Linked DNA regions of Homo sapiens: regions 2, 3, 4 and 5 are each linked to region 1. The links come from fine-mapping of genetic effects on gene expression. A gene starts in region 1. Each other region holds a variant in brackets. All regions are shown on one strand. Distances are from middle to middle. Region 1 holds the start of MYH7B (myosin heavy chain 7B). Region 2 overlaps ITCH (itchy E3 ubiquitin protein ligase). Region 3 holds the start of RALY (RALY heterogeneous nuclear ribonucleoprotein). Region 4 holds the start of TRPC4AP (transient receptor potential cation channel subfamily C member 4 associated protein). Region 5 overlaps MYH7B (myosin heavy chain 7B).

What was found.
Region 2: its variant is fine-mapped to the expression of MYH7B in thyroid (GTEx, PIP 0.98).
Region 3: its variant is fine-mapped to the expression of MYH7B in stomach (GTEx, PIP 0.99).
Region 4: its variant is fine-mapped to the expression of MYH7B in tibial artery (GTEx, PIP 0.97).
Region 5: its variant is fine-mapped to the expression of MYH7B in esophagus mucosa (GTEx, PIP 0.96).

What each region holds. Positions count from the first base shown.
Region 1 is chr20:34,953,423-34,959,204 of GRCh38, reverse strand. MYH7B (myosin heavy chain 7B) reads right to left here and starts at 3,337. Exons shown (of 45, transcript NM_020884.7): 1 at 3,198-3,337; 2 at 993-1,107. It overlaps GSS (glutathione synthetase), which reads left to right and starts at 3,399. Exons shown (of 13, transcript NM_000178.4): 1 at 3,399-3,478. RefSeq lists enhancers at 3,072-3,251, 3,492-3,591.
Region 2 is chr20:34,482,511-34,488,292 of GRCh38, reverse strand. The region is part of intron 20 of ITCH (itchy E3 ubiquitin protein ligase); the gene reads right to left. Among named protein-coding and RNA genes, the nearest start is that of MIR644A, 19 kb to the right of the region's middle. The variant GAAC/C (reference allele first, on the strand shown) is at 2,597.
Region 3 is chr20:33,989,043-33,994,824 of GRCh38, reverse strand. RALY (RALY heterogeneous nuclear ribonucleoprotein) reads right to left here and starts at 914. Exons shown (of 10, transcript NM_016732.3): 1 at 694-914. RALY-AS1 (RALY antisense RNA 1) reads left to right here and starts at 458. Exons shown (of 2, transcript NR_109886.1): 1 at 458-620; 2 at 1,920-2,337. RefSeq lists silencers at 194-523, 744-793, 854-983, 1,164-1,273, 1,444-1,693 and enhancers at 1,471-1,997, 1,934-2,013. The variant A/G (reference allele first, on the strand shown) is at 2,690.
Region 4 is chr20:35,092,456-35,098,237 of GRCh38, reverse strand. TRPC4AP (transient receptor potential cation channel subfamily C member 4 associated protein) reads left to right here and starts at 5,431. Exons shown (of 19, transcript NM_015638.3): 1 at 5,431-5,624. The coding sequence starts at 5,457. RefSeq lists silencers at 1,767-1,896, 5,530-5,659. The variant G/A (reference allele first, on the strand shown) is at 3,135.
Region 5 is chr20:34,982,940-34,988,721 of GRCh38, reverse strand. MYH7B (myosin heavy chain 7B) reads right to left here. Exons shown (of 45, transcript NM_020884.7): 11 at 4,007-4,030; 12 at 3,776-3,868; 13 at 3,593-3,656; 14 at 2,524-2,622; 15 at 1,733-1,836; 16 at 1,435-1,573; 17 at 1,047-1,165; 18 at 808-957; 19 at 460-630. Among named protein-coding and RNA genes, the nearest start is that of MIR499A, 4.5 kb to the left of the region's middle. RefSeq lists enhancers at 1,907-2,458, 2,459-3,010, 4,113-4,664. The variant G/A (reference allele first, on the strand shown) is at 3,546.

The DNA.
Region 1 (5,782 bases):
AGGTCTGTGAATTCCTCCACGTAGCTGATGCAAAATTTTATACTAATGGATCTCAGACGAGTCTATAGCCTCAAAAGTAACAAACCACAGACTTGACCTGACTTAGCATGGTTTCTTATTCACCCAATGGAGATACGATTTCTACCTTGAAAGGCTGTGAAGGGATTAAATGAGGTAATTTGTGAGAAGTACTTGAAACATCCTCAGCTTTCATTAAATGTTGGTTTCCTTCTCTTTCTCTCTCCCCAAACTATTTCCATCAGTTAGCAAATATTATTGAGCATCTGCCACGTGGCAGGCACCAGTCAGGTCCTGGGGGTAAAGTGGTGAACAAGACAGACATGGCCCATTTTCATGGGGCTCACATTCTAGCAGAGGGAAACAGCAAACAAATAAAAGCAACAATTTCAGATATGAATAACTGCTATGAAGAAAATACAAGGCCGGGCACGGTGGCTCACGCCTGTAATCCCAGCACTTTGAGAGGCAGAGGCGGACGGATCACAAGGTCAGGAGTTTGAGACCAGCCTGATCAACATGGTGAAACCCTGTCTCTCCTAAAAATACAAAAATTAGCCGGGCATGGTGGCACGTGCCTGTAATCCCAGCTACTCAGGAGACTGAGGCAGGAGAATTGTTTGAACCCAGGAGACAGAGGTTGCAGTGAGCCAAGATCGCACCACTGCACTCCAGCCTGGGCAACAGAGTGAGACTCCATCTCAAAAAAAAGAAAAGGATAACGTGATAGACTTATAGGGTGGGGCAGCCTCCAGGGATGAAACATCTGAATGACCAAAGGAGCCAGTCATGCCAGGATTTTGGAGGAAAGCACCCAGGCAGAGAGTGCAGAAAGGGCAAACGCTCCCTGGAAAGATTCTTAGTCAAGAGTCCTTCACTCCCAGTCCTACCACAAACTGGGTCACCTTGAACAAGTCACGTAACTTCTGAGGCTCAGCTGCCACATCTACAAAATGGGAATAAAGACATCTTACCTGCCACATTGTGAGAGGTTTCAACCAAAGGGCTGTTAAGGTCTGGGATCCTCCCCAAATCTCACCATAGACACCTGATACTCATCACTTGGCACCCGTCTTGGAAGAGGGGAACCTGCACAGAGAACCCTGGGTCATGCTTTTGATTTTTAATTTCATGCTGCACTAGAAATAGCTTCTTTTGTTCCTGGTTGACCCAGGAGCCTCTTCCTGCCACCTGGGGCCTATTCTAGTTAACAGCTGCTTATCCCCTCAGGTACAAAAGCCAACGAGGAAAGGACATCAGGAAACATTGTTCTGGGAATAACCAGACACCTATCTGCCACCATCTCCCCCCATCCCGTGACCACACACGGGAGACTGGAGGACTCAGCCTGTCCTGTAGTCAGATAATGTACATGGTTTATTTAAAGAGTCAAAAGGGGCCGGGCGCAGTGGCTAACGCCTGTAATCCTAGCACTCTGGGAGGCTGGGGCGGGTGGATCACCTGAGCTCAAGAGTTTCAGACCAATCTGGCCAACATGGTGAAACCCTGTCTCTACCAAAAATACAAAAATTAGCCGGGTGTGGTGGTGGACGCCTGTAATCCCAGCTACTTGGGAGGCTGAGGCAGGAGAATTGCTTGAACCTGGGAAGTGGAGGTTGCAGTGAGCTGAGATCGTGCCACTGCACTCCAGCCTGGGCAACAACAACGAAAACTCCGTCTCAAAAAAAAAAAAAAAAAAAAAGAGTCAAAAGGATCTTGGTCCCTGGGTTGGGCCACTGATTTACGATCACTAGGAGTTCTCACTCCTAAATTTCTTTGATCTGTTCGCTTCGCTCCATCTCCACAGCTGCTGCACTGGCTACAGCCTCATGATCTCACATCTTAACTCTCTCTGCTTTCTCTGGCCCATCTCCCCACTTCCAAACCATTTGTCACGCTGTAACCAGTGCCTAACACACAAAACTAACCATGTCCTTCCCCTGCTTAAAGCCCTTAGCTCCTGTTGCTCAGTGGAACTGGCGTCTGAGGCTACCTCTCCAAGCCTAAGCGCCTAAGTCCTGTTGCAACCCTCAGGCCCTTCCTCATTATCCACACCAAACTCCTCAGTGTCTGTAAAACAAGCCGAGCAACCCTCAGAATTATATGCCTTCGCTGCTCGTTTGTTTTGTTTTTAGGACAGGGTCTCACGCTGTCACCCAGGCAGGAGTGCTGCAGCGTGATCTCAGCTCACAGCAGCCTCCGTCTCCGGGGCTCAAGAATTCTCACGCCGCAGCCTCCCGAGTAGCTGGGATTACAGGCACGGGCCAACACACCCGGCTAATTCTTGTATTTCTAGTAGAGACGGGGTTTCGCCATGTTGCCCAGCCTGGTCTCCAACTCCTGAGCTCAAGTAATCCACCTGCCTCGGCCTCTCAAAGTGCTGGGATTACAGGTCTGAGCCACTGCACCCAGCCAGCCTTTGCTGCTTTTGTTCCTGCAATTTGGAACACTGTCCCCATCCCAGCCTCTCACCTCTACCCCTACCTCCTTCACTACCTATACCTTCCTATCCATCCTTCAAGACCCCAAAAACCATCCCTGATTCCTTCAGAAAGGCAGTTTATTGCCTATCTTATCAGACTGAAAGCAGTGGCTGTGTCTTATTTATGGTTAATTCCCTAGAAGCTGGACTGATACATTCCATTTAACTAAAATTCGTATCAGGTGCTTCGGACTGCAGACAAGCCTATCACAACCCAGAAGGAAGAAACAGGGAAGGCACCTGGGGGCTGCCAAGCAATGAGGTGGGGGGTAGGAATCATGAATCCGCATATTTTTAAAAACTGCCCCAGATCCTGATGTAAACGGTACAAGAGAGTCTGAGAAACACAGGGCTCCCCTCAAACAGTCCTGACTTCAGCATTCCTGGAAAAATGAAAATCCTTTCCTTTTGCCTCTAATGCTTTCCCTGCTGGTATCCCAGGTTAAAAAAAAATAGATAAAATCAGGGGGATTTTTCTGGGACTTGGCTGGGCTGGGAAACAAGCCTGGGTTCTAATACAGGCTCAGCCCCTGACGTACTATGGGCCCCTGCCCCTCCTTGGGGCCTCCATTACCACGGCCACCCCCACCCTTATCAATTGTGTGCCCCTGAGGTAGTGACTGTCCCGCTCTGAGCATTAGTTTCCCCATCTTCCACTAGTCGTCGTCAGCTCTGACGCTCTATGAGCTATGCATACCCGTAGCTCCCCGCCGACCCCGATGGTCCCCTCCCCTCCTTCCCAAGGTCCATCCGCCAGGGTGCAGCCGACGCACTCCTAATGCTAAGGCCGCCCTCTCATCGACCGCCCCTTCCTGGCCTCGACTCAGCGCCAAAGGTATGGGTCTCTGCCCCGCCTGCTCTTTAAGCCTAGCCGGGGCGGTCAGCGCAAGCGCACTGGGTCGCATCGAGGCCCCGCCCCCTGAGCCTGGGTAGCGGCGCGAGGGCCGGGAGAACCGTTCGCGGAGGAAAGGCGAACTAGTAGGTTGGGGCGGCCACGGCGGCCGGCATGGGTCACGTTTCCTCGGGAGGAACGATGTGAGGGAGGGGTCTGGCAAGAGATTGGAATTCCGGAGGCCGGGAGACCTTGTGGCTGAAACCCTTCGTAGGAGCGGGGCAACTAGTGTCTAGTGAGGGGGTTGGGCTGGCGCGCACTGATCCCAGACTTTCCGGATCTTCTGCCTTTAGATCGGGCCGGTGTCGGGGCATGTAGGCCAGTGAGACTGGAGCCAGTTAGAGCTACAACGGGGAGCGATTAGGGCCAAACTTTGTCCAGGGTGGAAGCGAGCGGGCCCGTGAAGTGGGGCCAGCCTGGGCAGCCGACCGTGTCGTTGCCTCGGGGCCTTTCCAGGCACTGGCCTAAGTCCTGGCGATAAAGTGCGACCGATTTCCTTGTGGGCGTTTTGAGGCTTTCGGTGATCTGACCCGTCTGTCATTCATTCTTCATTCATTCATGTGATGAATGAATACAGTACTAAGCGCGGCTAATTACTAGGTAGAGAAGTGATCAAGACAAACACTGTTCCTACGGTACAGGGAAAAGTGATGGGCTGTAGAATGTAGAAGCCCGGGGCGGAGAACAGGGACAGCTTCCGGAACGAAATCGCGAGCCCAGATCAGGAGTGGTGGCGAGAGTTCCAAAGAGAAGACAGCACGTGCCAAGTCCTGGAAGGGGGACAGAGGCCAACATATCCTGGTCACTGAAGACACCTGACTCTGAATCTGTTTCACGCCCAGGGAAGAGATGACAGTGGCCGGGGCTAGGCTACAAACTCTGGAAATGGAGATAAATAAAGGAATTCAAAGTACTATATACTTAGGCAGCAAAATCCATAGGATTTGGGGAGAGTGAGATGTAGGAAACAAGTACTCAAGGCTTGGGTACCTGGGTGGGGTTCATCAGAGAAGAAGCAGATTTGTGGGAGACAACAACAAATTCTATTCTGGTTGTATGGAGACTCGCAGGAAAAAATTGGATATTCTAGTTTGAAGGTAGGAAAGTATTGCTGTGAAGATGTAGATTTGAATGTCATCAGCAAAACATAAATAAAGCCAAGGGAGGGTTGAGGCTGTAGAATGAGAAAAACAAAGGGCCCACTTAGCACCTTCATCTGATTTCTTTTCTTTCTTTCTTTTTTTCTTTTTTTTTTTTTTTGACAGAGCTTTGCTCTTGTTGCCCAGGCTGGAGTGCAATGGCACGATCTCGGCTCACTACAACCTCCACCTCCTGGGTTCAAGCTATTCTCCTGCCTCAGCCTCCCAAGTAGCTCGGATTACAGGCATGCGCCACCAGGCCCGGCTAATTTTGTATTTTTAGTAGAGATGGGGTTTCTCCATGTTGGTGAGGCTGGTCTCGAACTCCCGACCTCGGGTGATCCGCCTGCCTCGGCCTCACAAAGTGCTGGGATTACACGAGTGAGCCACCACACCTGGCCCATGGTGATTATCTTTATGTCTTATCCTCCTCCATATCCCCAGTACCTAGTCAAGGGAGTGGCATTAAATGCAAATCAGTGTTTGCCAACTAAATAAAAGCCCAACAGCAAACAGATGTTGGAATTTCAGAGTTGTGGAACGATGGGGGCTCATGGAGGGTTTCATTACTCTAATGTCAAGGTAATGGGTTCTTGTCCTGGCTCTGCCACTAGGCTTCTGTGTGACCTCTGACAAGTCTCCTCCTACCTATAAAGAGAGTACAGCCAAAAAATGGTCTCATGTATAGAGCTTCAAACACTGCTGATAAATTTCACACTGATTTTTCTCTTTTAATCCACACAGCAATCTTACTTGAAAGGGAAGTCGGCTGGGCGGGGTGGCTCACGCCTGTAATCCCAGCACTTTGGGAGGCCGAGAGTGGGGGATCACGAGATCGAGACCATCCTGGCTAACACGGTGAAACCCCGTCTCTACTAAAAATACAAAAAATTAGCCGGGCATGGTGGCAGGTGCCTGTAGTCCCAGCTACTCGGGAGGCTGAGGCAGGAGAATGGCATGAACCCAGGAGGCGGAGCTTGCAGTGAGCCGAGATCGTGCGGCTGCACTCCAGCCTGGGCGACAGAGCCAGACTCCGTCAAAAAAAAAAAAAAAGAAAGAAAGAGGGAGGGAGAGAGAGAGAAAGAAAGAAAAAGAAGGAAGGAAGGAAGGAAAGAAGGAGGGAAGGGAAAGGGAAAGGGAAAAGGAAGGAAGGAAAGAAGGGAAAGGGAGAAGTCGTATTATTATGGACTCAAACCCAGGTCTGTCTGTCTGTCTGACTTGAACCTTGTTCTTTACTATGATTGCCCTCAT
Region 2 (5,782 bases), 470 kb after region 1:
AAAAAATGAAGGTGAAATAAAGATGTTTTCATATAAAAGCTGAGAAAATGCATCACCAAGAGATGCACACTAAGTGAAATGGTAAAGAAAGGTTTTTTTTTTTAAAGCCAAAGGGAAATTATCTTAGATTTAAAAAAAAAAATGAATCTGAGGAAAGAAATAAGGAGAACCAGAAATAGTAATGTGAGTAAATATAAGATTATTTTTGAAAATAGTTAAAAATTAAAGCAAGAATAACAGTAACAAAGTATTATATTTGTGACACGTAGAAATAATATATGACAACAACACCACAAAGAGCTGGAGTGAGGTAAATGGAATTATATTATTATGAGCTTCTTTTCTTTTTTTTTGAGACGAAGTCTCGCTCTTGTCCCCTAGGCTGAAGCGCAATGGCGTGATCTCGACTTACTGCAACCTCCGCCACCTGGGTTCAAGCGATTCTCATGCCTCAGCCTCCCAAGTAGCTGGGATTACAGGTGCCTGCCACCATGCCTAGTTGATTTTTGTATTTTTAGTAGAGACGGGGTTTCATCATGTTGGCCAGGCTGGTCTCGAACTCCTGACCTCAGGCAATCTGCCCACCTCAGCCTCCCAAAGTGCTGGAATTACAGGTGTGAGCCACCGCACCTGGCCTATGAGCTTCTTATATTGTACAAGAAGTAGTGTTTGGGTCAACAGGGATGTTAAAGATGCATATTATCATAATCATTAGAGTTGCCACTAAAGTTAAACAAAGAGGTATAGCTAAAAAACCAACAGAAGAGCTAAAAAAGAAAGTAAAAATTGCTTTATTCAAAGAAGGCAAGAAAGAACAAAGAAAGTTGGGAAAAATAAGAAACAAATAGCAAGGCGAGACAAATAGCAAAACAAATAGCAATGGTTAGACAAAAGTCCAACCAAATCAGTAATAAAATTAAACATAAATGTACTGAACACTCCAATTATAAAGTAGAGATTATCAGGATAAAAATAAGACCTGGCTGGGCACGGCGGCTCATGCCTGTAATCCCAGCACTTCGGGAGGCTGAGGTGAGGGGATCACGAGGTCAGGAGATTGAGACTTTCCTGGCTAACACGGTGAAACCCTGTCTCTACTAAAAATACAAAAAAATTAGCCAGGTGTGGTGGCAGGCGCCTGTAGTCCCAGCTACTCCGGAGGCTGAGGCAGGAGAATGACGTGAACCCAGGGAGCGGAGCTTAGAGTGAGCCAAGATGGCACCACTGCACTCCAGCCTGGGTGACAGAGAGACTACGTCTCAAAAAAAAAAAAAAAAAAACCTAACAAATACTTTTAAATACAATGAGAGTGGCTGGATGTGGTGGCTGACATCTGTAATCCCAGCACTTTGGGAGGCTGAGGTGGGTGGATCCCTTGAGCACAGGAGTTCAAGACCAGCCTGGGCAACACGGTGAAACCCCATCTCGTCATGTGGGTGTGGTGGCACATGCCTGTAGTCCCAGCTGCTTGGTGGCTGAGGCTAGAGGATCGCTTGAACTTCTGGAATTGGACGCTGCCGTGAGGCAAGATTTCACCACTGCACTCCAGCCTGGGTGACAAAGTGAGACCCTGTCTCAAAAATATTAATAATAAAAATAAAACATAATAAATAAATAAATAAATAAAATAAATAAAATAGTGAAAAACACAACATTCCAAAATTTGTGGCTGGGCGTGGTGGCTCATGCCTGTAATCCAGGCACTTTGGGACGCTGAGGCAGGCGGATCACCTGAGGTCAAGAGTTCAAGACAAGCCCGGCCAACATGGCAAAACCCCGTCTCTACTAAAAATACAAAAATTAGCCAGGCGTGGTGGCGGGTGCCTATAATCCCAGCTGCTCGGGAGGCTGAGGCAGAAGAATCACTTGAACCCAGGAGATGGAAGTTGCAGTGAGCCAAGATTGTACCGCTGCACTCCAGCCTGGGCGACAGAGCAAGACTCTGTCTCGGGGGAAAAAAAAAAAAAGGTGTGGACTGGATGCGGCGGCTCATGCCTATAATTCCAGCACTTTGGGAGACCAAAGTGGGAGTATCGTTTGGATCCAGGAGTTTGGAGACCAGCCTGGGTAACATAGTAAGACCCATCTCCTACAATAAATAAATAAATAAGTAAGCCAGGCATGGTAGTACATGCCTGTGGTTCCAGCTACCTGGAAGGCTGAGGTGGGAGGCTATCTGGAGCTCAGGAGGTTGAGGCTACAGTGAACCATGACTCTACCACTACGCTCCAACCTGGGCAACCTCAGAGTGAGACTCTATCTCAAAAAAAACAACAAAAAATTGTGGGATATAGCTAAAGAAATACTTAGTTGGAAATATGCAGCTTTAAATCCTTATATTAGAAAACAGAATGTGGGAGGATAGCTTAAGGCAAGGAGTCTGAGACCAGCCTGTGCAAAATAGCAAGACCACATCTCTACAAAAATAAAAACAACCAAAAAATTTGCTGGGCACAGTGGCTTGTGCCTACAGTCCCAGCTACTCAGAAGGATGAGGCAGGGGGATCCTTTGATCCCAGGAGTTTAAGACTGCAGTGAGCTCTGATCGTGCCACTGTATTTCAGCCTCGGCAACAGAGCAAGACTCCGTCAAAGAA[GAAC/C]GAAATCTAGACGTATCGTAAGAAAAGGTAAGAAGAGGGAGGGAAGAAGGGAAAGAGAAGAGTTTCTAAAATCAATGATCTGAAATATTTAAGAACTCCAACAATCACAAATAAAAAGACAACCCAATTTTAGAATGGATAAAAGATTTGGATACACACATCACAAAAGAAGAGCTACAAATGATCAATATGCATAGAAAAACGTACTTGACACCATTAGTCAAGGAAGAAATGGAAATTAAAACCACGAGATATTACTGACAATGCTGAATTGGCAAGAACGTGAAGCAACTCTCAAATACTACTAGTAGGACTGCAAAATGGCAAAAACACTTTGGGAAACTGGCAGTTTCTAATAAAGTCAAACACCTTCCCAGCGATTTCACTCCTAGGTATTTACTCAAGAAAAATATGTCCACAAAAAGATATCACAAGAATGTTTATAGCAGCTTTACTCATAAAAGCCCCAGACTGAGAAACAACCAAAACATTTATCACCAAGAGAATGGATAAACAAATTTTGAGATATACACAGCATGGAATATTTCTCAGCAATAAAAAGGAATAAAATACTGATATAAACAATATGGCTGAATCTCACAAACACCAAATAAAAGAAAAAATCAGACACTAAAAGCTAGATATAAGAGTACATACTCTATGATTTCATTTTAGGAAGTTTAAGATCAGAAACAGTTATAGAAATAGAACTAAACAGAAATGGTTACCTACCTCTGGGGCTGGGAGAAGGGAGGTGTGCATTGGCCCCTTATGGGGTCCAGAATAGAAAAAAAAGTTCCACAATTTGGGTCATATTTACATGGACATGATGCTATATGGAACAGTGTTTACAGAATTGGTAATTAAATGAGTGATCTAGCACAACTTCTCTCCATAAAATGCTCACATTTGGGCTGATATATATATTTGTCAAATTTCAACTTCTACACTTAAGATCAGTGCATTTTATTCTAAGGAAATTATACTTCTTAAAATAATACTAAAAACCCCCCAAACTCTGAAATTTTAAGCAAGCCATTATTGAAGTAGATACTAAAAACCTTTTTAGCTGCCCATTATCTTAAAATGTTATCTTACCAGCAACAAAACTATTGAGAAACGTAGTACATCTCTTGGAATCTCGAAACATTACCTCTCTGGAATGCTATATATGTCATAAGAAAATCTAGACATATCATAACAAAAAAACTGGAGAATTGACAAAAACGAATTGACTACATTTTAAAAGCAGATTTCAAAATAAACTTTTAAAAGGATAGATTGTTGTCCAAGAAATAATGACAGCTCACTGTGTTAAATAGTATACTTTCAATTATGGAGGGAAAAACCAGGCAAGAAATGCAGAACCTGGAACTTAAGAAGTAAATATGCAAAATTTAACCCTGGCTGGAAAGAATTGCTATTGAGAAGGTATGAATGAACTATTAGCTCTTGAGACTAGTAGCATGAACCAATGGAAATAATCAGAAAGGATATACTATAAAACATCATTTTAGTTATAAATTTTACCCAACCTTATGATATAGTTTGGCTCTGTGTCCCCACCCAAATCACATCTTGTAGCTCCCATAATTCCTATGTGTTATGGGAGAGAACCAGTGGGAGATAACTGAATCATGGGGGCGGGCCTTTCTCATGTTGTTCTCATTATAGTGAATAAGTCTCACAAGATCTGATGGTTTTAAAATGGGAGTTTCCCAGCACAAGCTCTCTCTTTGCCGGCTGCCATTCATGTAAGACATGCCTTGCTCCTCCTTGCCTTCCACCATGATTGTGAGGCCTCCCCAGCCATGTGGAACTGTAAGTCCATTAAACCTCTTTCTTTTGTAAATTGTCCACTCTCAAGTATGTCTTAGCAGCAGTGTGAAAACAGTAAATTGTTACCAGGAGTGGGGTGCTGCTGAAGATAACTGAAAATGTGGATGCAACTTTAGAACTGGGTAACAGGCAGACGTTGGAACAGTTTGGAGGGCTCAGAAGAAGACAGGAAAATGTGGGAAAGTTTGGAACTTCCTATAGACTTGTTGAATGGCTTTGACCAAAATGCTGACAGCAATATGGACAATAAAGTCCAGGCTGAGGTGTTCTCAGATGGAAATGAGAAACTTTTTGGGAAATGCAGCAAAGGTGACTCTTTGTATGTTTTAGCAAAGAGACTGGCAGCATTTTGCCCCTGTGCTAGAGACTGGTGGATTTGTACTTGAGAGAGACGATTGTACTTGAGAGAGATGATTTAGGGTATCTGGTGGAATAAATTTCTACGTAGCAAAGCATTCAAGAGGAGACTTGCGTGCTGTTAAAGGCATTCAGTTTTGTAAGGGAAGCAGAGCATAAAAGTTTGGAAAATTTGCAGCCCAACAATGCAATAGACAAGAAAATCTCATTTTCTGAGGAGAAATTCAAGCTGGCTACAGAAATTTGCATAAGTAATGAGGACCCGAATGTTAATCCCCAAGACAATGTGGAAAATGTCTACAGGGCACGTCAGAGGTCTTCATGGAAGCCCCTCCTATCACAAGCCTGTAGGCAGGCCTAGGAGCTAAAAATGGTTTCATGGGCCGGGCCCAGGGTCCCCACGCTGTGTGCACTCTAGGGACTTGGTGCCCTGTTTCCTAGCTGCTCCAGCATGACTAAAAGTGGCCAAGGTACAGCCCGGGTTGTTGCTTCAGAAGGTGGAAGCCCCAGGAGTTGGCAGCTTCCACGTGCTGTTGAGCCTGAGGGTGCACAGAAGGCAAAAATTGAGGCTTGGGAACCTCCCTCTAGATTTCAGAAGACGTATGGAAATGCCTAGATGCCCAGGCAAAAGTCTGCTTGCAGGGGCAGGGCACTCACAGAGAACCTCTGCTAGGTCAGTGTGGAGGGGAAATGTGAAGTTGGAGGCCCATACAGAGTCCCTACTGGGGCACTGCCTAGTGGAGCTGTGAGAAGAGGGCAACCGTCCTCTAGACCCCAGAATGGTAGATCCACCAACAGCTTGCAGCATGAGACTGGAAAAGCCATAGACACTCAACGCCAGCCCATGAAAGCAGCCGGTGGGGGGCTATACCCTGCAAAGCCCCAAGGGCAGTGTTGCCCAAGGCCATGGGAGGCCACCTCTTACATCAGGGTGACTTGCATATGAGACATGGAGTCAAAAGAGATCATTTTGGAACTTGAAGATTT
Region 3 (5,782 bases), 960 kb after region 1:
TAAACACTTCTTTCACATATTAGTTCCCTCCCTGAATCCACGAACACCCCGCAAAGCGAGTTTCCTTCTTTCCCCCCATGTCACCGAGAGGCAAACTAAGACTCGGCCGCCAAGGAGGCTGAGTGAAACGCGGATACGGCCCCAGTTCGAGGGCCCGTTGTTGTTTCTCTCCGAGCCCAAGGCGTGCAAAGAGCCCAGAAGAGGCGGGAGCCGAGGCAGGACAAGCTCTGCGCGCCTCCGGGAGCCCGTAGACCCAGTCCGGGTTAGGAGAGCCGGAAGCAGCCGCGGCCGGGCCCGCCTGCGGCCTCCCCGGAGCAGCCTCCGTTCCCCTCCCTCCGCCCCTCGCCGGGCGGGGCGGGGCACGAGCACAAAAGACTCCAACTTCCGAGCGGGCGCGGGCCCACCCAGCCAACTACTGGCCCAGACTTGGCCCGCGGAGAGAGCAGACAGGGAACGCCGGGAGCAGGACCGGGCGCGGAGGGCTGGGGCCGGGGACCCGGGGCGGCGGGTCCGAGTGGGAGAAAGGAGCGGCGGAGGGGGCCTAGAGTTACTCGGGCTCCCGGGACTCCCCGAAGGGCAGAAATAAGTTTCTAAAAATAGGCAGCGGCCTGCCGGAAGAAGTGAGTGAACGGAAAGGCACAAAGCACACACCCTCCCCGCACCCCTAAGGAGACGCCCGCAGTCCCCACTCACCCGCGCCGAGAGGTCTGGAGGAAGCCGCGCGGCTGGGAAGGAGGCGGTACTGCCGCACTCGGGGACGTAAGGGAGGGAGGAAAAGGGCGGCTGCGGCGGGAAGAGGCTGGGCACACGCGCGGGAGTCGTCGTCGTCGCCGTCGCCGCCGCTACCGCCCCCTCAGCTTCTCTGGGTTCCGCTGCCCCGAGCTGGCGCCGCTCGCGCGCCCCGCCGCACTGACAGCGGCGCGAGCCCCGCAACCGCGAGCCCTGCCCTCGGCCGGCACCACTGAGGCGCGCGGGGGTGGGGGCACCCGGAGCGGCTCCCCGCAGCTCGGCTCCGCCCGCCGCTCCGGCCCTGGTTCCGGGCTCTCCTCCTTCTCTGTCTCCTGGGAAGGACACGGTGACACGAGCACGAGGAGTCTGCAGCCCCGCCCAGAAACAGCCCGGCTTCCCAGGCGCATGGGCTCTCCCCACCCTCTCAGCCTGGCTTTGGAAAGGTCCAGAGCTTCGGCGGGGACGGGAGGAAGGCGGGGCCAGGGTGGGGCCTGAAAGGGAGGAGGGACTGAGACGCGGCTTGGGGAGGCGGGGCTGGGGCGGGAAGAGGGCAGCTTGCACAGGTTTGGAGCCGAAGTAGGGGCGGAGCTAAGATGGTGATGAGGCCCTGGGAAGAGGGTCGCCGGACCAGTGGGGAAGGCCGTGCAGGAGATGGAGAGCCGGGAACCAGGACAGCGCTTGAAAGGAGATGCTGTGGGCGGGGCTAAATGGAGAATCGCCCAGAGGGCGGAGCCACGGGTGGAGGGAGGCGGGGCTGAAGAGAAGCTTAGAGTGGGAGGAAGATGGAAGCGGGCCTGAAGGAGGCGGGCCCGGAAGCAGGGAGGGGAGGAGGGGCCCCGGGGGTGGCTACTCTGGGCGGGTGCCGGAAGGAGGCGTGCCCCAAGGAAGGACTGAGGGGTGGTGCTTGAGGTGGGCGGGGCCTGGAGATGGCGCTCAAATCTGCAGGCTGTGGGCGGTGCAGGAGGGATCCGGAAGAGACGAGGCAGGAAGAAACTCCTGGTCCTTTCGCTTTTAAGGAACGTGCCACCTAGACAAGGTGAGGGTCGCTCTTCGCTGCCTAATCTGGGACTGGGCGGAGAGGCCGCGCTAAGGGTGATCTCCGAAAAAGATGCAGGAGATGTTTTATAACTTGATCCAGGTGCTAGTCCTCTCTCCTACACATTTCTCCTGTCGGGATTTCTCACTTTCAGTGTTCCAGCCTCCGGTGAACCAGTCTTCCTAGTGAGAGCACGAGAAGCCCGTTGTCCTTCATTCCTCAGCTATGGATTTCCCTGAAAGTTGAGAACTGACCATATTCTCGATGCCTCCTCCGACCTGTGATTTCATGACTCACATCGCTTCCCCAGAACCTGCTTAACAGACGGGATTCCTGAGAATGGAGCAGAGTTTGAATTCAGAGTCCTGGCTTTGCCATACCAGCAGTTATAATTGTCCTTCTGTTGTTTGATGACCTCCCTGCCCTGCTTCAAAAGGAAGAGAAATCAAAGAGTTGACGACCCTGAGCGCAAGGCCTGGGACGTTCTTCCCCAAACTCGCTTTAATATCACCTTCTCAAAAGAACTCTTCCCTGAACACCTTGTCTCAAGATGTTCTCTAGTTTGTCTTCTTGTTCTGTCATTTATTTGTCTGTTCATTGTTTGTGTGTTTTTTGAGGCGGAGTCTAGCTCTGTCGCCTAGGCTGGAGTGCAGTGGCACGATCTCGGCTCTCTGCAACCTCTGCCTCCTGGGTTCAAAGCGATTCTTGTACCTCAGCCTCCCAAGTAGCTGGGATTACAGGCGTGTACCACCATGCCCGGCTAATTTTTGTATTTTCAGTGGATACGGGGTTTCATCATGTTGGCCAAGCTGGGCTCTAACTCCTGACCTCAGGGGATCTGCATTTGAGGATAAACCCTGTCTTGGCTCCTCCCTGACGGGGGTGAGAAGTAGCCCTCCTGGAATTGCCTCAAAGCCCCCGGTT[A/G]TCACCAGTGTTCTCGGTTGCAAATTACGAAACATAAATAAACTCAGACTAACAGATGCAGCAAAGGAATTTATCAGGAAGGAATGGGGAGCTCCCAGAACTGATGGGAAGGCTGGAGAACCAGGCTCAGAAAATGCACTGAAGTGGTGAGCGCAGAGGCTTGAATGTTGCCAGGACTCTCCTCCCAGTCCTTTATCTCTTCTCTCTGTATGCGAGCTTTTCTCCTCAAGGCTAGGCACCTGGCTGCAGCAGCGCTCACCACTCACAACTCTCACCCGTTCCACCGGAGAGAGACTGAGGATTTCTGCTTCTGGTCTGAAGGACAAAATTTTAGGGAAAAACTTTGATTGGTCCAACATAGGTAAGTCCCCGTCCCTAGACCAATCATCTATGGGTGGAAAACCAGGTGCTGTGACTGGCCCAACTTAAGCCAGGTGCCATTCTCTAACCAATACTGTGAATAAGGAAGTGGGACGTACAGGGAGATGGCAGCCCCATCGGAACCATATGGTCAGAGAAAGATGCATTTCCCAAAAGATGGAGTTCATGCTCTGGGGCAGATTGAATAATAGATTTTCACTACACCTGCCCCAGAGTTACCCCCAACCAATACATTACTTACTGCCCAACTCTCATCATTCCTTCTCTGCTCAAAACCCTTCAATGGGCTGGGCGCGGTAACTCACGCCTGTAATCCCAGTACTTTGGGAGACCGAGGTGGGGGGGATTACTTGAGGTCAGGAGTTCAAGACCGGCCTGGGCAACATGGTGAAACCCCATCTCTACTAAAAATATAAAAATTAACCGGGCGTGGTGGCAGGCACCTGTAATCCCAGCTACTCAGGAGGCTGAGGTGGGGTAATCGCTTGAACCTGGGAGGTGGAGGTTGCAGTGAGCCGAGATCATGCCACTGCACTCCAGCCTGAGACACAGAGAGAGACTCCGCCTCAAAAACAGAAAAACAAAAAACAACCTTCAATAGCCTCCCATTGCCATGTCATCAGCATGGATCAAAAACTCAAATGTCATGCCGGGCACAGTGGCTCATTCCTTTAATCCCAGAATTCTGGGAGGCTGAGGCAGGAGGATTGCTTGAACCCAGGAGTTTGAGACCAGCTTGGGCAACATAGTGAGACCCTGTCTCTACAAAAAAAAAAATTTTAATTAGCTGGCATGGTAGCATGTGCCTGTACTTCCAGCTACTTGGGAGGCTGAGGCCAGAGGATCACTTGAGCCCAGGAGGCCAAGGCTACAGTGAGACATGCTCACACCACTGCATCCAGCCTAGGCAACAGAGTGAGACCCTTCTCAAAACAAATAACAACAACAGCAAACCCTCAGGTGTCTACAGGGGCTAGAAAGAAGGTTAGGCATGAGACAATAGGGAGTGGAGAGCACTGTCATGAACTGGAGGATGTGTGTTGCATACTGTTCCTAGAATGCAGGTGCTGAGATGTAGGATTCTTCAAGAGAGCCCCCAAATCTGGATTTTCATATAAAATCTCCCAATTTCTAAATGTTGGCTCAACTATTTTTAAAAACCCTGTGCAAGCCAAATGAATTATGTCTGCAGGCCAATTACTGTAGGCTGTGGTCTAAAAATGAGCAATCTCTGACCTTTATAGGATAAAGCCTATAATCACACACCCACCTTTGGGGTCTGTCATCTATTACTACGTAAGAAATCATCCCGAAAATGTAGTGACTTAAAACAACAATGATTTGTTACTTCTCACAATTTTATAGAATGACCAGGTGGTTCTTCTGCTCCATGTGGTGTTGGCTGGGAAAAGCTTCCTCCTGTCTCCACCTCCACATGTTCTATTTCCTTTTCAAGCCCAACTGCCAATGGCGCCTCCACCCTGAAGCCTGCCTCATCTCCTGTGCCACACACATTGCCACTGGCCAAGTCTAAATGAGATGCCGTGCTCTCCAAGCTTTGTTGCTCTTTATGTATAACTATTAGAGCACACATTTAGCTCACCTAGAGAATGGAGGTCTGCCTTGTCCATCTTTATTTCCTTCTGGCACAGTCACACAGGAAAGCCCCATGGGTGCTGTCAGATTGGATTGAACTGAGCTGACTCTTGGAGATATTTAGTCAAACTTGCCCATTTTACAGATGGAGAAATGACAACTGGAGAGGGGAGTTCTACTGGAGAGGGGAGTTCACACATATACACTGAAAGCTGCCCATCAAAAGAGTTGCAGAACCAGGACTACAGCCCTTGCATCTTGACTGCCAGTACGATGCAGGTTAAACTCTGTGTTTGATGCTTGTTGATGTGGACGTCTGGAACTTGAATAGAAGACATTTCTTATTTCAGATGCATCCATTAGCAGGTCTTAGCCAGGAGCCAGGCCCTTGCAAGTATATATTGCAAGTAATTGATGACATTGGAGCCAGAAATCGAATGAACCGGGCCCAGTTCAATCCACTTACTGGACAAGCTCCTCAAGCACTCTAAGCCCCAATTTCCTCCTCTGTAAAGTGGGCATAAATTACATTTACCTTGAGGGTTGCTGTGAAGGCTAGAAATAATATATGTAATGTCCCCTGATACACAGAAGGTGCTCAAGAAATAGTAAGCTCTTCTAATGATTGTTATTGATGGCAAAGATGATGAAAAAACAAATGCTCTGACTTCTCAAAGGAGAGAGAATCATCCCTGAGGATTGTGTCTTGGAGAACATAAATCCATATTTTCTCTTTCCTGAACAAATTCCCTCTGGAAGGGCACAAAGGGAACAAATTCCCTTGTTAGGAAGGAAGGAAGGGAAGGAAGGATGGAAAACAAGAGCAAGGAAGGGTTGGCAGGTTGTGACTGTCTACCTCTCCCTGAGGCTTGCTCTGCTACACCCACCCCAAACTCTGGTCCATCCCATTTCCATGCTGAGATCAGGCCACACACAGAAGTGTTGGTGTCAGACCACCAGCTTTGAGCCATCCCTGGGAATCCCCAGGATACTGGATAGCAGATTTGGAGCATACAGTTCCCACCCACTGTGACTGACGGCTAGGGAGCTCAAGGTTATGGAGGAAGCTCTCATAAGTCAATGCAAGTTTGTGTGTCTCCCGTTCCTCACTGGCTT
Region 4 (5,782 bases), 140 kb before region 1:
TAGTTTTTAGGAGCATGTCCTTGATCTTAGGAGATACATTCTAAAATATGCAGGTGAAGTGTCATAATATCTACAATTTACTTTCAAATGGTTTAGCAAAAAATGGCTTAGCAGGATGGGTGCAGTGGCTCACATCTGTAATCCCAACACTTTGAGAGGCTGAGATGGGAGGATCCCTTGAGCCCAGGAGCCCAAGGCTACAGTGAGCTATGATCGTGCCACTGCACTCCAGCCTGGGCAACAGAGCGAGACCCTGTCTAAAAAAAAAAAAATGTTTAGCAAAACTAACACAAACCCTCTCTACGTATAAATGAAGTATAGAGAGAGATACATATATGGAAAGAGCTGTATATATACATATATGTATATATACATATATGTATGTGTATATATGTATATATACACATATATATGTATGTATATGTATATATACACATATGTACGTATATGTATATATGTGTATGTATATATACACATATGTATATATGTATATATACACATATATGTATATATGTATATAGGCACACATGTATATATGTATATAGGCACACGTGTATATATGTATATATACACACGTGTGTATATGTATATATACACACGTGTGTATATGTATATATACACACGTGTGTATATGTATATATACACACGTGTGTATATGTATATATACACACGTGTGTACATATGTATATATACACACGTGTGTACATATGTATATATACACACGTGTGTACATATGTATATATACACACGTGTGTACATATGTATATATACACACGTGTGTACATATGTATATATACACACGTGTGTACATATGTATATATACACACGTGTGTACATATGTATATGTATATACACACGTGTGTATATATGTATATGTATATACACACGTGTGTATATATGTATATGTATATATACACGTGTGTATATATGTATATGTATATATACACATATATGTACATATGTGTATATATGTATATGTATATATACACATATATGTACATATATGTGTATATATACACAGAGAGAAAGATAAAATATAGTTTTAGTAGCTGACAAGTCTAAGCAAAGGGTATATGAGTGTTAATGGTGTATCTTTTAACTTTCTGTAGATTTGAAAAACTTCCCCAAAAATGCTGCGAGAATAATAAGATAGTGCAAAGAAAGTGCTTGGCCAATGGTAAGTGCTCAATAAAGGGTAGATCTTACCCAGAAGTATAAGCCCCATGAGGGCAGGAAATTTTGTTTATTTTATTTAGCACAATATCCACAGCACCTATAACAGTGCCTGGCACATAAGATAGTACTTAACAAACATTTAAAAGACAAATCATGGAGAGGTTGTACATTAGAAATGTAATGTAAAAAAAAATCACTGTAAAAAATGACACCACAGGACAATGCATAGTTGCATGGGACAGCTGTTACCATGGCCTGATATAACAGTGCCAGTTGCTTTGATTAAAGTGACTTCTTGGCAGGGTGCCATGACTCATGCCTGTAATCCCAGCACTTTGGGAGGCTGAAGCGGGAGGATTGCTTGAGCCCAGGAGCTTGGCGGCTGCAGTGAGCTATAATCACACCACTGTACTCCAGGCTGGGCCACAGAGCAAGACTTCAAAAAAAAAAAAAAAAAAAAAAGTCCCAGAAAATCTGTCTGCCCAATTGAGATGAGTTTGGCGATTTATTTACAAGAGTTAATGTTCTCTGAATAGCATCATCATGTTTGGTTAAGCCATTTGGGATTACGGTGGAAAAAAAATTAGCCAGTTTGGGAGCTTCATTTTTTTTCTAGTGCTGATTAAAATTGACATCAACAGACCTCTGGTGGGAGAGGTACTTCGCCCTCTGGTGGTGAGAGACACTCAGCTTTTTTTTTTTTTTTTTGAGACAGAGTCTTGCTCTGTGGCCCAGGCTGGAGTGCAGTGGCGCGATCTCGGCTCACTGCAAACTCCGCCTCCCGGGTTCAAGCAATTCTCCTGCCTCAGCCTCCAGGGCAGCTGGGACTACAGGCGCGCTTCACCCCGCCCAGCTAATTTTTGTGTTTTTGGTAGAGACGGGGTTTCACCATATTGACCAGGCTGGTCTCGAACTCCTGACCTCGTGATCTGCCCGCCTCGGCCTCCAAAAGTGCTGGGATTACAGGCCTGAGCCACCGCGCCTAGCCTCAGCTAGTTTCTACGGAAAAGGCTGGCAGAGCAGAGGTGAAGTGGAAAAGAGTGTCTTTCCACAGAGGTTTCTGGAAACATGTCCCCTTACTTCATGGTCACATGGTATCTGTAAGGACTGAATTTGAGGTTGTCATTTTTGACCCAGTGAATACCCAGCTTTGGTGAATGCCTGGGCCAGGCTAGACTGACAAAGATAGGAACTGAGGAATGGAAAGTGACATTTGCAGTTGGGTCAAAGCTGAGGTGGGAAGATTTGTCCCTAGCATGATGAGTGCCAAGGGAAACCTGGAGGGCCATGTGAACTGTGAAATTAGTCAGGATCCTGTCTCCTCACCGCGACAAGGGTGAGAATATCCATCACCATATGCCTCAGGAAGAGCTCTGGGTGGAATCCCTGGGCTGTGGATTCCCTGGTAAGGCTGGCTGCTGCCCGGACAGCTCACCAATGCCCTGTTTGTATCCCTGGAAATGCCTTTTCTTTTTATGTCTTTTTAAAGTTAATTTCACATATTAGAAGACTTTTTTTTCTTGAATCTAGAAATGATACATAGCTGGTGCAAAAAGTTATGAAAAGTATTGTTATTGAACCAAAGTGAGGGCTGCTTACCTGGTGCAGCAAAGCCACTGACATTGGGATTACAGCAAGAGAAAGTGAGGCATTTATTATTGCACTTGCTGCAGGGTGCCAAGCGAGGAGAATCAAACAGCTTATGCTTAAGACCTGAACTCCCTTATGGCTTACAGGGGTTTTATTTTATTTTTTTGAGACAGAGTCTTGCTCTGTCGCCCAGGCTGGAGTGCAGTGGTGCAATCTCAGCTCACTGCAACCTCTGCCTCCTGGGTTCAAGCGATTCTCCTGCCTCAGCTTCCCGAGTAGCTGGGATTACAGGCACGTGCCACCATGCCTGGCTAATTTTTGTATCTTTAGTAGAGACGGGGTTTTGCCGTTTTGGTCAGGCTGGTCTC[G/A]AACTCCTGACCTCAGGTGATCCACCTGCCTCGGCCACCCAAAGTGCTGGGATTATAGGTGTGAGCCACCGCGCCCAGCCGGCTTACAGGTTTTTAATGGCAGGAGGGCAGAGGCCACAGGCGAAGTCATAAATCAATACATAGGGGCTGTATATTGGTTCCACCTAAAAAGACAGGACATCTCCAACCAGGGGCCCACAAGTGGATTCAAAGATTTTCTGACTTGTAATTGGTTAAGGAGGTAAAGCTTTGTCTAAAAATTTGGGATCTGCAGAAAAGAATGTTAGCTCTGACTTATGGTCGTGTCCTCCTCCAGGCCCCCTAGGAAGAAATTTATAACAAAAAATAGAAGTCAAAGTTTAGTTCTCAGCTCTCCCTTATCTGAGTTTGCCTATCAGCAGATCCATTTGGTGGGGGTTCGAGTTTCTAAGAAACAACACTCAGGGACAAATTTTAAGATGTTATATTCAGTTTCTATAGGGAACAAAATATCTCCTGACTGTAACTTCTTTGGCTATTTTTTTTTTTTTTTCTGAGATGGAGTCTCATCCTGTCATCAAACTGGAGTGCAGTGGCGTGATCTCGGCTCACTGTGACCTCTGTCTCCAGGGTTCAAGTGATTCTCCTGCCTCAGCCTCCCAAGTAGCTGGGACTACAGGTGCATGCCACCACGCCCAGCTAATTTTTGCATTTTTAGTAGAGATGGGGTTTCACCATGTTGGCCAGGCTGGTCTCGAACTCCTGACCTCATGATCTGACTACCTCGGCCTCCCAAAGTGCTGGGATTACAGGTGTGAGCCACTGGGATTACAGGTGTGAGCCACTGCACCCGGCTGAGTTTATTTTTGTATAATGTGAGAGATGAGGATCCAGTTTCATTCTTCTGCATGTGGCTTGCCAGTTATCACCAGCTGTTGAATAGGGTGTCCTTTCCCCACTTTATGTTTTTGTTTGCTTTATCGAAGATCAGTTGGCTATAAGTATTTGGTTTTATACTGTGTTCTCTATTCTGTTCCATTGGTCTATGTGCCTATTTTTATACCAGTACCATGCTGTTTGGGTGACTATGGCCTTATTGTATAGATTGAAGTCAGGTAATGTGATGCCTCCAGATTTATTCTTTTTGCTTAGTCTTGCTTTGGACATGCAGGCTCTTTTTTGGTTCCATATGATTTTTAGGATTCTTTTTTCTAGTTCTATGAAGATGGATGGTGAGTCTACTCCTTTTAGATGGGGTGTGAGGATGGTAACCATAGTGCCAGTTCACCTGGGAGAGTCACTTTTATGCCTACCGTCCCGGTGTAATTATTTATTGTGTCTTTTCATTCTTTAAAGTGTTCTGGTTTGAGCAGTAAGTTACAGTCATCTTAGTTATGAGTCACAATCTTCACCATTCCCTGTTACATCACACTTAGCTCTCCTCTTTCATTTTTATTACAGGCCCCCTGCTAGGAAGGGAAAAAGTGTGTGTGTGTTGGGTGGGGGGAGTCAGTGCCATCCTGCCACAGAAGTTAGCTGAAAAAATGAGTATTAGAGACAACATGCTATCTGGTGGATAGAAATTAGGACAGGGTTTTCATCTGACAGAGAATATGATGTCACAATTTACTAATCCCTTTCCCTTCCATTATTTAATTTCACAACAACCTACCCAGTTACACAACTTATCCAGTTTGAGACTGCGTTTCTTTGTGTATGGATCTGCTGTCTTCCCCTGTAACCTGCATTTCGTGATAAAGGATCCCAGGCCGTTCTGCTCACCACTGTATCCCAGACACCCTCCCTTTCCCCTAGACATGGTTTGGTGTCGGGCGCAGAGAAAGCCCCAGGAACTACGATTGATCAGGCTCCCAGAATCTATAGATGGAGTGACCTGACGAGGACACAGGCGCAGTGGCAGAGCGCGATGACTTGGTCGATGTCCGCGGTGAGTCACGTGTAGAGAGAAGCAGGCAGGAAGCGGACTCGAGGGCCTGACTCCTGACCTGAAGCCCAGGATCATTTCTTGGCCAGCTGCCTGCATCCTGCCCAAATCGGCGAGAGAAATGGGAGAATGTGGACCTTGGGAGATTTCGCCGAAATGCTGGGCCCGGGGGCCAGAGAAACCGGCAGTGCAGGAAAGGCCACATCTCTTTTCCCACCTACCCCGCTGCCGCGCAGGACTACAATTCCCAGTAGCCTCCACGCCGCACACGGTCCCTGCCACGCGGCTTGCGCCTCCGCCGACGGCCCACTGGGGGCGCTGCGGCGACCCCTCCGCCGCCCCGTAGAAATCTCCGCGGCCCCGAGGCCGCTTGCTTCCTGTTTGTCCGACGAGGAGACATGGCGGCGGCGCCGGTAGCGGCTGGGTCTGGAGCCGGCCGAGGGAGACGGTCGGCAGCCACAGTGGCGGCTTGGGGCGGATGGGGCGGCCGGCCGCGGCCTGGTAACATTCTGCTGCAGCTGCGGCAGGGCCAGCTGACCGGCCGGGGCCTGGTCCGGGCGGTGCAGGTACGAGGCTGGACCAGGAGGGGCGGGGCGGGGCGGACCAGGCGGGAGCTGGCGGGGGGCCGGGGAAGAGGCCTTTCCAGGCCGCCGCTGGACGGGCCAAAGCCCTTTTGGCTGGCCGGAAGGCCTCCCTGTGAGCTGCCCGGACGCTCTCAGCTGCA
Region 5 (5,782 bases), 30 kb before region 1:
ATTTTTCAAATTTTCTTTCTTCCATTCTTTGTACAATGGGTAAATATACATAATGTTCCACAATCACAAAAACAAGGAAACACACCCTGCCCTGCACCCAGGGCAGTTCTAGGGATCCAGTGAAATTGTGGCTGCAAATAGGGCCTTGTGAGCTGCAGAATTCTGAGCACCCAGGAGGAGCTGTTGTCCACAGTACTGGGATGCATGCATTCACACTGCTCACACACTCACCAAGGCTCACTCATGGTCAACTCCAACACACCCACTCACACACGTGCCCTTTCACACACAAGCACATAAACGCTGTCACAACTACACTCACATGCATGCTTACTGCAACGCACAGTCACACGCTTCCATGCACACTTGCAGGCTTCCATGCAAGCCATGGTCATCCATCCCTGCTTGCTCACCACACACACCCTCCCTTCCTCAAAGTGACCTTGCCGCGGCACCCACCTTCTCGATGAGGTCGATGCAAGGCTGCAGGTCAAGGCCGAAGTCGATGAAGACCCAGTCGATGCCCTCCCGCTTGTACTCCTCCTGCTCCAGCACAAACATGTGCTGGTTGAAGAACTGCTGCAATTTCTCATTGGTGAAGTTGATGCACAGCTGTTCGAAGCTGTTGAACTACAAGAGGGAGGGGCCTGGCTCAGCAGACCTCTCGCAGATGGGGAAAGGGAGGCCCGGGGAGGGGCATGAGTTCACCCCCAACTTCCAGGCAGAAGGCCAGGGCTTCTGCCCCCCCACAGGCCCATGTCCTCTACCTTGGAGAGAACAGAGGCCAAGGTGAGGGCCTGTCCTCACCTCAAAGATCTCAAACCCAGCGATGTCCAGAACCCCGATGAAGAACTGCCGGGGCAGCTTTGTGTCCAGGGTCTGGTTGATCCGAGACACCAGCCACCTGAACAGCCGGTCATAGGTGGCCTTGGCCAGAGCCCCCACAGCAAACACCACCTGGAGGTGCAGGGAGGCTGGGCTGGGACCTGGCAAGGAGGGGACCCTGCCCGGCTGTCCCCCATGGGTTTGGCCTGCAGGCAGCTCACCTGCTCCACACTCTGGCCCTTGGTCACGTACTCGTTCCCTACACGCACCCGGGGGTGCAAAAGGCCTTTGAGGAGGTCCCCACTGCTGACCCCCATCAGGTAGGCAGCCTTGTCAGCACCTGGCAGGGCACGAGTGGGGTAAGGGAGGAGGACACCACCATGCGCACTCAGGGGCTCTACTGCCTCAGCCTGGGGCTAGGAGAGGGAAGTTAAGAGGGGTCAAGTTCAGGGCTAGCAAACAAAGCCTCAGGAGGGTAAGGGTTTGGAGCTGAGGAGGCAGGGCCAGGTAAGACTGAGGTTAAAGGTTGTGGACAAGAGTTGGGGTTAACCATCATGGACAGGATGCTGAGGTCTGGGTCAAGTTGAAGGCCAGGTTAGGGCCCCTCACTCTCAGTGCCATCGGCCTCCGCCTGCTCCTCCCGCTGCTTCTGCTTGAACTTCATGTTGCCAAAGTGCAGGAGGGCGCCCACGATCTTATAGCAGGCACATTTCTCATCCACGCTGAAGCCTAGGATGTCCATGGCATGCTGGGGGGCAGCAGGGAAAGCGAGTTCAGAGAGGTCTGGGCTCCTCCAGGGTCCAGCCAGGCACTGCCCCGGGACCATTCATGCAGCTGGGGGCACCGGCAGTGCTGCCCGATTCCACCACAGGCGTCCACACAGCTCCCCTCCCACCAGAGCTCATACGTCGGTGGCGATGAGCTCCTCCCCATCATTCATGTTGTCCACGGTGATGACGCCCTGGCTGCAGAAGTGGTAGTCATAGGGGTTCATAGACAGAAGCAGCATGTCTGGGGACACAGGGCAGAGAAGGGAGGGTCAGGCAGTGCTTACCGGCTATTCTCCCCACAACAATTGCAGCATAGGGGGTCCTGCGGGGGCAAGCCCAGCAGGAGTCTAGGGCCCTCCCAGAGGACCTCATCTCCCAGTCTGGGGCCTAAGTTTCTCATCCTCACTCCTGCCAAGGCTGAGGGCACTGAGAGTGAAGGGCCCTGACCTGGCCTTCACTTTGACCCTGGCTTCTTTTTCTGGTTCTCTGAGGAATGAGCCACAGTCCTCACGTCTCACTCATCTTTTGACTGTTGCTCATGGCCCCCTCTGGCCCAGATCCCATGCTAGATGCTGGCGCACAGGGAAGACCAGACTCTGCCCTCAACGGGCTTGCCAGAGAGGAGAGCTGGGCCTAGACAGTCATCAGTCCGCCTTGGTGCTGGGTGGGACCTCTCTAGTCTCAGGACAGCAAGTGGGGTTTAGGGCTTAGGCTCCTGGAGGCAGCGATAACACGTTGGCAGGTTGCTGGAGCTAAGAGGACTGTTCCCTAGCAGGAAAGTAACCAAAAGTCCCAAGAAGGAAGAGAGGCCACAGACCCCAGGACAGGGAGGGAAAGACCACCAGGGCCTGGCCTGATGGGGGCCAGGAAGCGCCAGGCAGCCCCTCCAGGTTCTGACTCCCACCCCCTTCATCGTACTGCCCCTCACCCTGCAGCTCTGGCTTCCTCCCTGAGAGGATCTGGTAGTAGACATGGTAGCTGCGCTCACCAGGCAACTGGAAGATCACCCGCGACTTCTCCAGGAGATCTGGGGAGAAGGGACGCTGGCCTGCCATCTCCCACACCTCCCCAGAGTGGACATCCCAAGGGGGCGATGCGGAGGGAGAGAGGTGGGCAGGGAGTGTGCAGGGGGGCTGCATCTGCACCTGCCAGCTTGTGTGGGGAGGGTATCTCCCCTGTGCCTGCGTCATCACACGAGCCGTGTGTCTGTACCTGTGTGTCTGTGTCTCTGGCCAGATGGGTCAGTGTGTGTCCTTGCGTGTGTGTGGGGTGAGTGTGGTGTCTGCGTGTGCAGGTTTTTATCTGTTGGTGTGTCAGCGTGTGTGCGTGTGTGGCCGAGCCTCCGTGTGTGTCTGTGTGTGTCTGTGTAGGGGTCAGGGTGTGAATTACAGCCTATCCCTGTCCCCGTCACTGCCTGCCTGCGCTCATCCGTCAAGACCTAGCCATGCAGCCCAATGTGGGGAGTGGCCAACGTGGGGGCCCCTCTGTGTCCCTGGCCCCCTTGAGTGTGGCCTAGGCGCCTGGGGTCTATGCAGCTGGTGGTACTGGGGCACTTCCCAGCGGGGTGCCTGGAAGGATGGGGCACTCTACGTGTAGCTGTGCAGCTGGGGCAGGAGGGCCGTGGGCCAGGCCTGCCCTCTTGGTGGCCAGAGAGAAGACTGGGGACACGCTAGGGGTGCAGTCACAGGAGCCTGACTGGCCAAATGAGGATTTGGGTCTCCATCCTCAGGTGACAGGATCTAGAGAAAGCTTTCAAGCAGGAACAGGATATGACCAGCAAAACTATGGCCGCGTAGAGGAGAGGAAGCTGGAGACCAGGCAGAGGCTGGGGTGATGTTCTGGTGATAGGTGAGGTGGCCTGAGCTGGGCAGCAGCCAGGGGGTAGAGAGAAGTGCCCAGAGCAGGCAGGAGCCCAGAAGTCGTGATGACAGAGGCCGAGTTGGGGTGACC[G/A]GGCTCAGGCCTCCTTCCCCTGCACCGCCCGCAGGGGGTTGACTCACAGCTGTCAATATCCGCGGATGCCAGCTTCCCAGAGGGACCAAAGTGAATGCGGATGAACTTGCCCTGTGGGCAGAGGGGCAGCCCTCAGCCAAGGGGCACAGCCAGCACTGTCCCCACCTGTGCCCGACCTGCCGCTGGTGGCCTACGGCATCCCCGCCACCCCTCCCACCTCAGCCACTCACAAAGCGGGAGGAGTTATCATTCCTCAGGGTCTTGGCGTTGCCAAAGGCCTCCATGGCAGGGTTGGCCTCGATGATTTGATCCTCAAGGGTGCCCTGGGGCGGTGGGGGTGAGGGGGTCTGTCAGTTCTGGTGCCTACCCACCGGGAGGCCAGAGCCACCCGTGGCCCCTCTGTTGTGCAGAGGAAGGGGGTACCCCCAGGGCTGCCCCATTGACATTGGCCCCATACTCACCCCCGTCTTTGTTGCCAGAAATTGCTGGGGGAAGAAGACAGACAACATTAGAGGGCCAGGCCTCCGGTGGGGAAGGGCGGGGTGGGGCAGGGTATCAGCGGGAGGCAGCGGGCAGCAGGACAGGGGGGTGGAGTTAGTCACCGGAATGCATGGCCCCCACCCTCAGCCCCTCGGCCTGACCCTCCTGCAGCTGTTAGGAGGCAAAATGCTGGAAAGTGGGAGTGGCACAGCCCCAGCCAGAGTCTCCACCTGCAGCCTCCTCTGCCCCAGCCCGGCCTCTGGCCTCCCTTCATTTTCTAGTCTCCATGCAGTGGCCCTGCTCCAAGCCCCAGGGGCCTCCCGACTAAAATCTAGGGCCCTCCAGAGCCCAGCCCAAGTGCCCCCTCCTCTAGGAAGGCCTCCTGGCTGCTCCAAAGCTGGAATAGACCTCTTCCTGGTCTGAACCTTCCTGCCCTAACCTCCCACTATGACCTTACACACCTCTCCTTTGTAATGCAACTGGGTGTGTCTTCATTGTTTGTCTGCCTGTATACCTACCAGTGCGCACAAAGGCCCTGCCAGGTGCCCATTATTAGCCCTAATTTGCAAATGAGGAGACTTAGCTCTGGGCAGGGAGTGGATCTGCTCAAGGCCACACAGCAAGTCAGGAGCGGCAGGGCAGGTGCCCAGCATCCTGCCGCCTGGACGCCACAGCGGTCCTGTGTGTCACCCAGGGGGACTAAGTGAATTGAGCAGATCCTCCTTCTCCCCATCCTAGCCTCATCCTCACTTTCCCTTCCTTTTCCTTTCCTTCTCTTCCCTACTCCGGATGCTGGGAGCCAAGGAAGAAAGGGAGAGAAGGGAAGGAATGGATTCTGGAGGGAACAGATATACCACCACGGACTTTGTGGTCATTCATTCACCTCCAGGGAGCCCAAGAGTTAAAATACCCACAGGGACATTGGGCAGGGGAGGTGGAACCCCCCAATACACTCCCATCCAGTGCTTTTGTGCAGGGCTCTCTCTAGCCCGTTTGGCCAAATTTGGGGCCAAGGTAAGGGGAGCTGATCAATCTTTTAAGTTCCTGCAGCCATGGCTCCTGCGGGCAGCCTCTCCCACCCCTCCCTTGCCCGACCCTCTCCCCTGGGCTCCACTGTCCCAGCTCCTTTCTGCCCAGGTGCTCCTCTGCCCTTCCAGCTGTGTCCCTGCCAGCTCTGGCCTCTCCCTGACATCTCTTCCTGTCACTTGACCCACCCAACTTTCTGTTACGTCCCCAGAGACCTTTTTAGGGATTTGGAAGACAGGGCAGGAAAGGGAAGGAGGAAAAAGGACCAAAAAGTCAACAGCAAAAACAAAACAAAACAAAACTGAAATGAAAATCAAAAATCAAGACAATCAAATGGGTAAAAAGGAAAAGGCAAAAAAAAAAAAAAAAAAAGAAAAGAAAAGAAAAGAAAGAAAAAAGAAAGAGAAAAGAAAGAAAGAAAGAAAACAGGGGAAAAACAAGAAAAACACCCAGAATAAAGCAAGGCTTAACAGGACCAGGAGCAGGGACTGGGTGGGGAGGGAGGCCTCGGGCTTCTGGAAAAAGGCAGCCCATCTAGGGGTAGCCACAGGGCTCTGAACAACTGGCCCCAAGGCTAGGGATGAAATGTTATGCCTTAAAAACAAAAACAAAAAAACTTGGCCCCATTGTTTCAGAAATTTCCAAAAACTGTACAGAAATCACAAGGCACAAAATTGCCCTGCCAACCCCGGCTGCTGGGAATGCCCAGTGCCCTGCATGCCAGCCAACCT